2 linked regions of the Homo sapiens genome follow. The protein of the gene in region 1 purifies or fractionates together with the protein of each later gene. This does not show direct contact. Each region holds a gene or a part of one and is shown on either strand. Other genes may lie near its edges.

Evidence for each region. The genes of interacting proteins can lie anywhere in the genome.
Region 2: the proteins of ANKRD20A1 (region 1) and MTCL3 purify together in Homo sapiens (affinity purification with mass spectrometry; one large-scale study listed by BioGRID and IntAct). This does not show direct contact.

The regions. Positions count from the first base shown.
Region 1 is NC_000009.12:67,896,847-67,899,986, reverse strand, and holds part of ANKRD20A1 (ankyrin repeat domain-containing protein 20A1), read right to left. Parts: intron 2,429-3,140; coding exon 2,265-2,428; intron 841-2,264; coding exon 660-840; intron 1-659.
Region 2 is NC_000006.12:127,512,724-127,516,381, reverse strand, and holds part of MTCL3 (microtubule cross-linking factor 3 precursor), read left to right. Parts: coding exon 1-868; intron 869-1,081; exon of another isoform or gene 1,082-1,334; coding exon 1,335-1,559; exon of another isoform or gene 1,560-2,095; intron 2,096-3,332; coding exon 3,333-3,491; intron 3,492-3,658.

The DNA of each region.
Region 1 (3,140 bases):
TTATAAGAATTACATTCACTAAATCATAAACTAGACATTATACTAGTCACTCCTATATACATTCATTGATGAACTCATCTAGTTACCATAATTTTGAAAAAGAAATGTTAAAAATATAAGCAAGCTACAGGATTTTCCCCAGGACTTCTGACTCTACTTCTAGTTCTCCAACAGATCACAGTTACTTCTGTGGTGTAAATACATCAATACGAAAGAAAACTTTTATTTCAAAACGCCAATAGTAAATAAGATAAAATTTATAGAGCTCTTCTTAGAATATCATGAGATTATTTGCGATTGCAATAATTTCTGTTTCCTCTTTATAATATTAGGTGCAGTAATCAATATGAAATAGGGGAAAGTACAAGGAAAAATTTTACCTGGAACAAAATTTTTATCAATAGGTTATCACTAAGTATAAATTATGGCATATTATTGTTTTCAAAAGCTCTTTGTAATAAAATAATATCCTATGTGGATGCCAAGATTTATAATAAATATTAATAATTGTACCTGTAAGTGTCATCATTCATTTTTAAAAATGAGATAACATTTATGGTTTTAGACCTAAACAATATATATTAAATCAAGTGGATATTATAAGTAACAGTGATAAGATAAAGTTTAAAATATAGAATTTTTACCAAAGATTGATTTACCCAATTTGGAGTATTTCTTGCAGTCTTTGATTTCATCTCTAGTGACTGAACAGTTGGTTCAAGTTGTTTTGCTTCAACTTCTTTCTTATATTGTTTCTCTTTCCTTTCTAATTCTTCTCTATTTTTTTTGTACAGCATATTAACATTTGTTTTTTCTTCATTTTCTTGTTTTAAGGTGCATCTGCAGATAAAGACATTTGTCTTAAAATTCATTTTGTTAAAAAATAAGGAGTTCATCCTGTTACCTACCTCTGCAGATGTTGTTTATTATCCTAATAAAATTTCTATGTTCTGGATTATTTTTCCTTTGCAGTTCTCAGATATTTAATTTCTCACTTCAACATCTTCAAATGAATGCATATACTTGAAAAGTAGTAAGGAAAGAATATTCTGCTAAAGTTTTTGTTACTAGTCACTCTAATATATATTATAAAAAAGGATACCAGAGATAATTCAGTAAAGTTACAGGTTCAAAATTACCTTTTTAAATCACACAGTCATAATTACTCCCTAATTAGAAAAGATCATTTACAATCAACTAAATTTTTAAAGTTACTATTTATTGACAAGCGTATAAGTTCACTAGAAATAAATTTTCATCTTTATGAAATATTGCAGGTGTTTCTCCAAATGATTTACAGAGTGAGATGACACCTTCAGATGTCTCTCACACAAACTATATCTGCAGATGACTGTCATCCAAAACTAGGCTAAAAAGTCTAACATCTGTTTCCCCACACTTTTTATATTTCTTTCTTAATACTTTCAATTCACCTTATTACATATATTTTATATATTCATTAACCTATTGTTCATTATGTGTAATATATAATTAATGCATGTTAATTATATATTAATAAGTGTGTGTATGTTTACACCAGTTATGTTTTCCTGTGAAATCTAGTCCCAGAAGTGGAGTTGTTGAGTTAAAGGGATGTCAGGCTATTTGAAATTTTGATACACAGCACTAAGTTACCCTTCAGAAATAATTTACTAATTTCCTATACCAACAGTGTATGAGAATGCCTTTTTCCTCACATTTGCCAACACTAATAATTACTTTTTAAATATCAGCATGACTTTACAAAATATATCTTATTTTATGTTAATTTGCTTTTTTCTGATTACCAGGCAGGGCTAAATACCCCTGGTAAAAATATAAAACTTGTTAATCATAAGGAATATTAGTCCAATTTTCAATTAGTTTATAGCACAATGACAATTATCTCCTGTGAAATACTGCTATAGGCGGCCAGGCACGGTGGCTCACTCCTGTAAACCCAGCACTTTGGGAGGCCGAGGTGGGCAGAACACGTGAAGTCAGGAGTTCGAGACGAGCTTGGCTAACATGGTGAAATCCTATTTTTACTAAAAATACAAAAAATTAGCCGGGCATGGTGGCACATGCCTGTAATCCCAGCTACTAGGGAGACTGAGTCAGAAGAATCGCTTGAACCCAGGAGGCAGAGGTTGCAGTGAGCTGAGATCACACCATTGAACTCCAGCTTGGGCAACAAGAGAGAAACTCCATCTCAAAAAAACAAAAACAAACAAAAAAAACCCAAAACCAAACAAACAAAAAAAAAAACACTGCTATAGGCTTACCTATCATGCTCTTCCTTCAGCTTCTTGGGAAATTGCTGAGGATACGTTTTCCCAATCTTTCTTTGTTGGGTTAATCTGCCAGCAGCAGCAGAAGATGTACTATCACATATATTTTCTGAAAGTTGTATTTTTTCACTTTTGTTTGTATTATTTCCTTCTTTGACCTTTAATAAAAGATGAATAATAATTGTTATTATTTTATTCAATAAAAAGAACTTTTTCCCTGATTTTTTTTACTTGATTCAGGTTAACTATCACCACTTTAATGATAAAAGTATTTTGTGCTTACTTTAATTTTATCATTATACATAATTATTATAATTATAAGATACTCTTATTTTATCATCGAAATTTTTGTCAAATCTGCTCATTTCTGTTTGAGGGAATAGAAGAATTTTCCAAAATTTCAAAAAGGGCTCTTCTCCATTTTGTGCTTTTATTCCCATCCACTCTTTGCTATCTGGTATAAATTTTTATGCTATCTGGCTGGCAGAAACAGAGAAATAAAAAGACACAGGCATAATATATGTCTTCTGTCTTTACTACCTGGATTTTACATGAAATAGCCAGATTAAGAGGATGTGACCTTGTAGGCCTTCGGGAACAGTAAAGAAGTTTTCCCTTTTCTGTACTGAGCTACTCTTTTCCCCACTGCCTTTTATCTCTCTTTTTTTTTTTTTGAATCCTGTGATATCAAAAAAGTAAAGGTTCTCTTTGAATTATGGGAACCAACGTTTGCCACAACAAAAGAAGCAGAGTGAAACTGCTGAGTTTCTAGTGCAGAATTCTGGAAAATGAGATGCTTCCCAGATTTCACATTCAATTACCACAAAAGTTTATAGGTGGAAAACATATGGTACAGTTACCTACTTTAAC
Region 2 (3,658 bases), on another chromosome or scaffold:
GCAACAGCAGGGTAACAAGACCGGGAGCCGCACGGGGCCGCCCGCCAGCATCCGAGGAGGCGGAGGTGGGGCCGAGAAGGCGACGCCCCTGGCGCCCAAAGGGGCCGCTCCGGGAGCTGTCCAGCCTGTGGCTGGTGCTGAAGCGGCCCCCGCCGCGACCCTGGCCGCTTTGGGCGGCAGGAGGCCCGGACCGCCCGAGGAGCCGCCTCGGGAGCTAGAGTCCGTGCCCTCGAAACTCGGGGAACCCCCTCCGCTCGGAGAAGGGGGAGGAGGGGGCGGGGAAGGAGGAGGAGCCGGCGGCGGCTCCGGGGAAAGGGAGGGGGGCGCTCCGCAGCCGCCGCCGCCCAGGGGCTGGCGAGGGAAAGGCGTACGCGCTCAGCAGAGGGGCGGCAGCGGCGGGGAGGGGGCCTCCCCTTCTCCATCCTCCTCTTCTGCGGGCAAAACCCCAGGAACCGGCAGCAGAAACTCCGGAAGCGGCGTTGCGGGGGGCGGCAGCGGTGGTGGAGGGAGCTACTGGAAAGAAGGATGTCTGCAGTCTGAGCTCATCCAGTTCCATCTCAAGAAGGAGCGGGCGGCAGCGGCGGCGGCCGCGGCTCAGATGCACGCTAAGAACGGCGGCGGCAGCAGTAGCCGCAGCTCCCCGGTGTCTGGCCCCCCTGCCGTTTGCGAGACCCTGGCCGTCGCCTCCGCCTCCCCAATGGCGGCGGCGGCGGAGGGCCCCCAGCAGAGCGCAGAGGGCAGCGCGAGCGGCGGGGGCATGCAGGCGGCAGCGCCCCCTTCGTCGCAGCCGCACCCGCAGCAGCTCCAAGAGCAGGAAGAAATGCAAGAGGAGATGGAGAAGCTGCGAGAGGAAAACGAGACTCTCAAGGTGAGGAGGGTGGGGGGACCCGGCTGGGGGATGGGAAGAGTGGGCCTGGGAGGATTAGGGCGTGTACCGGCAGGGATCAGAGGCTGCTAACCTGTTAGGGAGCCTTGAAGAGGGAGGAGAACAAGAAAGGAGGGAGGGGGTTTCCTAGGCCTTGCCGGAATTTGAATCTGCTCTCAGTAACGCGAGGTTTTCATTTAAATTCAAATCTGGGCCTCCGTTTCTCTAATTATAATGGTTTGTCACACTTCTTCCTGGAGAGAGGTAGAGTAAGAGAACGAGAGAGGGCCTAAAGTGGGCCTTTTTCCCCCAGTTTCCTCTTCTGTACTCAGCTCCTTGTCACTCCTGTCTCGTGGAGAGAGAGGGCAATTAAAGCTGAGAATTTGGAATTGGAATGGGGTGTGTACGGTGTGTGTCGGAAGGGCTGGAAGCGAGTTTGATTTTGACACGCGGCCTGTCACCGCCTCAGAACGAGATCGATGAGCTGAGAACCGAGATGGACGAGATGAGGGACACTTTCTTCGAGGAGGATGCCTGTCAACTGCAGGAAATGCGCCACGAGTTGGAGAGAGCCAACAAAAACTGCCGGATCCTGCAGTACCGCCTCCGCAAAGCCGAGCGCAAAAGGCTCCGCTACGCCCAGACCGGGGAAATCGACGGGGAGCTGTTGCGCAGCCTGGAGCAGGACCTCAAGGTCTGCGGCGCGGGGGCTCAATGGCGCGCGGCAGGGGCGGTGGGTGGGGACTTTGGCCAAGGGCTCTTTAGGCTGAGAAGTCTTCAGTGGCGACTGGCAAGGAGCCTTAGGGACACAGTTTCGTAGCGCTAACCACAAAATACTAGGGTCTCAGAAGGGAGAGAACTGGCAGGTGGCTCTAAAGAGTGCAGAGTGTGTGGAGGGCCTGGCAGCAAACGAGCTAAGTGTGCTCTCCTGGGAGCAAAGGTGGCTCTTCAAGAGGTGATGAGAAGAAGGCTCCCTTCTGGGCAGAAGCAAGGGCGTGGCAGAGCGCAGGCTCTAGCCTTTGATCTGCCCTTCAGTCTGTCTACTGAGAGAAGTCCGGTGGAATCGGGCAGTCAGGAGCTGCACTAAAAGGACTCCTCTGGGGGAGTTGAAACCCAAAATAGGAACTGCACTGGGAAGATACTAGAGTTAAGATTTCTTTCAGCAAGTGTCCACTCCACTTCCTTCTTCCAGGACTTCTTCCTTTCTGCACTTGCCACTTAGGTGACTCCCTGAGGGGGAAAAAAAAAACAGATAACCAACTTGCAGCCTGTTTGGTGTGAGGTAAATGAAATAATCTCATTTTTTTAAAGTGCAATTGTTCCTTCAGAATTTCTTCCAGTGGAAAAATCTCAACCTTGAAGTGCATTTTCTAGACAGGTGTGGTCTCCAGTTCAGTTTGACTGTAGGCAGATTCATTGACTATGCAAACTAGACATTAACTTAATCTCCTTGCACAACCAAATAAGTATACGTTCATTGCATTAACTTCATTGGGATTTAAAGATCACGTGTAATCTTTGTTTTAAAGAAAGCTATGTGTAAACATTTTATGAAAGACGTATTACTTTTTTTCTTAACTTTTGTCGAGTGCTTAGTATGTACTAAGCACTGTGGCAAACACTGTTACATACATTATTATTTCATTTAATTCTCAAGGGAAAAAAAATCCTACAATGTAGGGATTATTAAGGCACCATTTTATAGGTGCAGAAGCTACACCTTTTACAGAGGTTAAGTGCCCAGGCCTGGAAAACAGCTAATAGGTGCCAGGCTGACTCTCCACTCAGTCCAAAATCACAACCTGTGTCCTAAGCCTCTACACCAGTCTGCTCCACTTTTCTTCCAAACCCTAGAATTTCCAGGATAATCTCAAAATATGAGGCAAAAATGCACAGTCATTCAAAAAATAATAATCTCAAGGACTAAAACTTTCCTAAGATTAAGCAACTGGAATTCAAGCTATAAGATTGAAATTCAAGCCCAACCCACTACTTGTAAAAACTTCAATTTTTCATTCTTTAACATAGATTATAATGGAAACATCTACCTCATAGTTTTGCTGAAGTAAAGGAAATTTGTGAAATTTCTCTACATGTGATAAAATGCAATAGAACATTTTTTACCACAGAGTAGTGCAGAAGTTAAGGGAACAAAATTTAGAGCCAGATTGCCAGGCCTCTTAGCCCAGCAGTGTCTACTCATTAGCTGTGTGACCTTGACCTCTCTGAGACTCAGTTTCCTCATCTACAAAATAGAAGTAATAATAGTACCTATCCCATGGGATTTTTGTAGGGTTAAACGATTGATATATGTGAATGGCTTATATGTATACTTTGTGGAATAATGCCTGGCACATGGTAAACACCATATAAATATTGGGTTTTAATGCTTTCAATAGGAATACAATTTTAGCCCTTATTATATTGTCATTAATTATATTTTATTGTTACAAACACCTTAATTCAGGTTGCAAAGGATGTATCTGTGAGACTTCACCATGAATTAGAAAATGTGGAAGAAAAGAGAACAACAACAGAAGATGAAAATGAGAAACTGAGGCAACAGCTCATAGAAGTTGAAATTGCAAAGCAAGCTTTACAGAATGAACTGGAAAAAATGAAAGAGGTTAGTATTTGATTATTTCATGGTGTACTATGTATTTTTAGCCCTTTAAAAAAGAATCCCAAGGACTAATATGACTGTTAAAAAATTTCTTTTATGATTGCAGGACAATTTTTTACTCTTACCCAAATAGTAAAAAATACATGATTTCATACTAATAAATGAGTAGC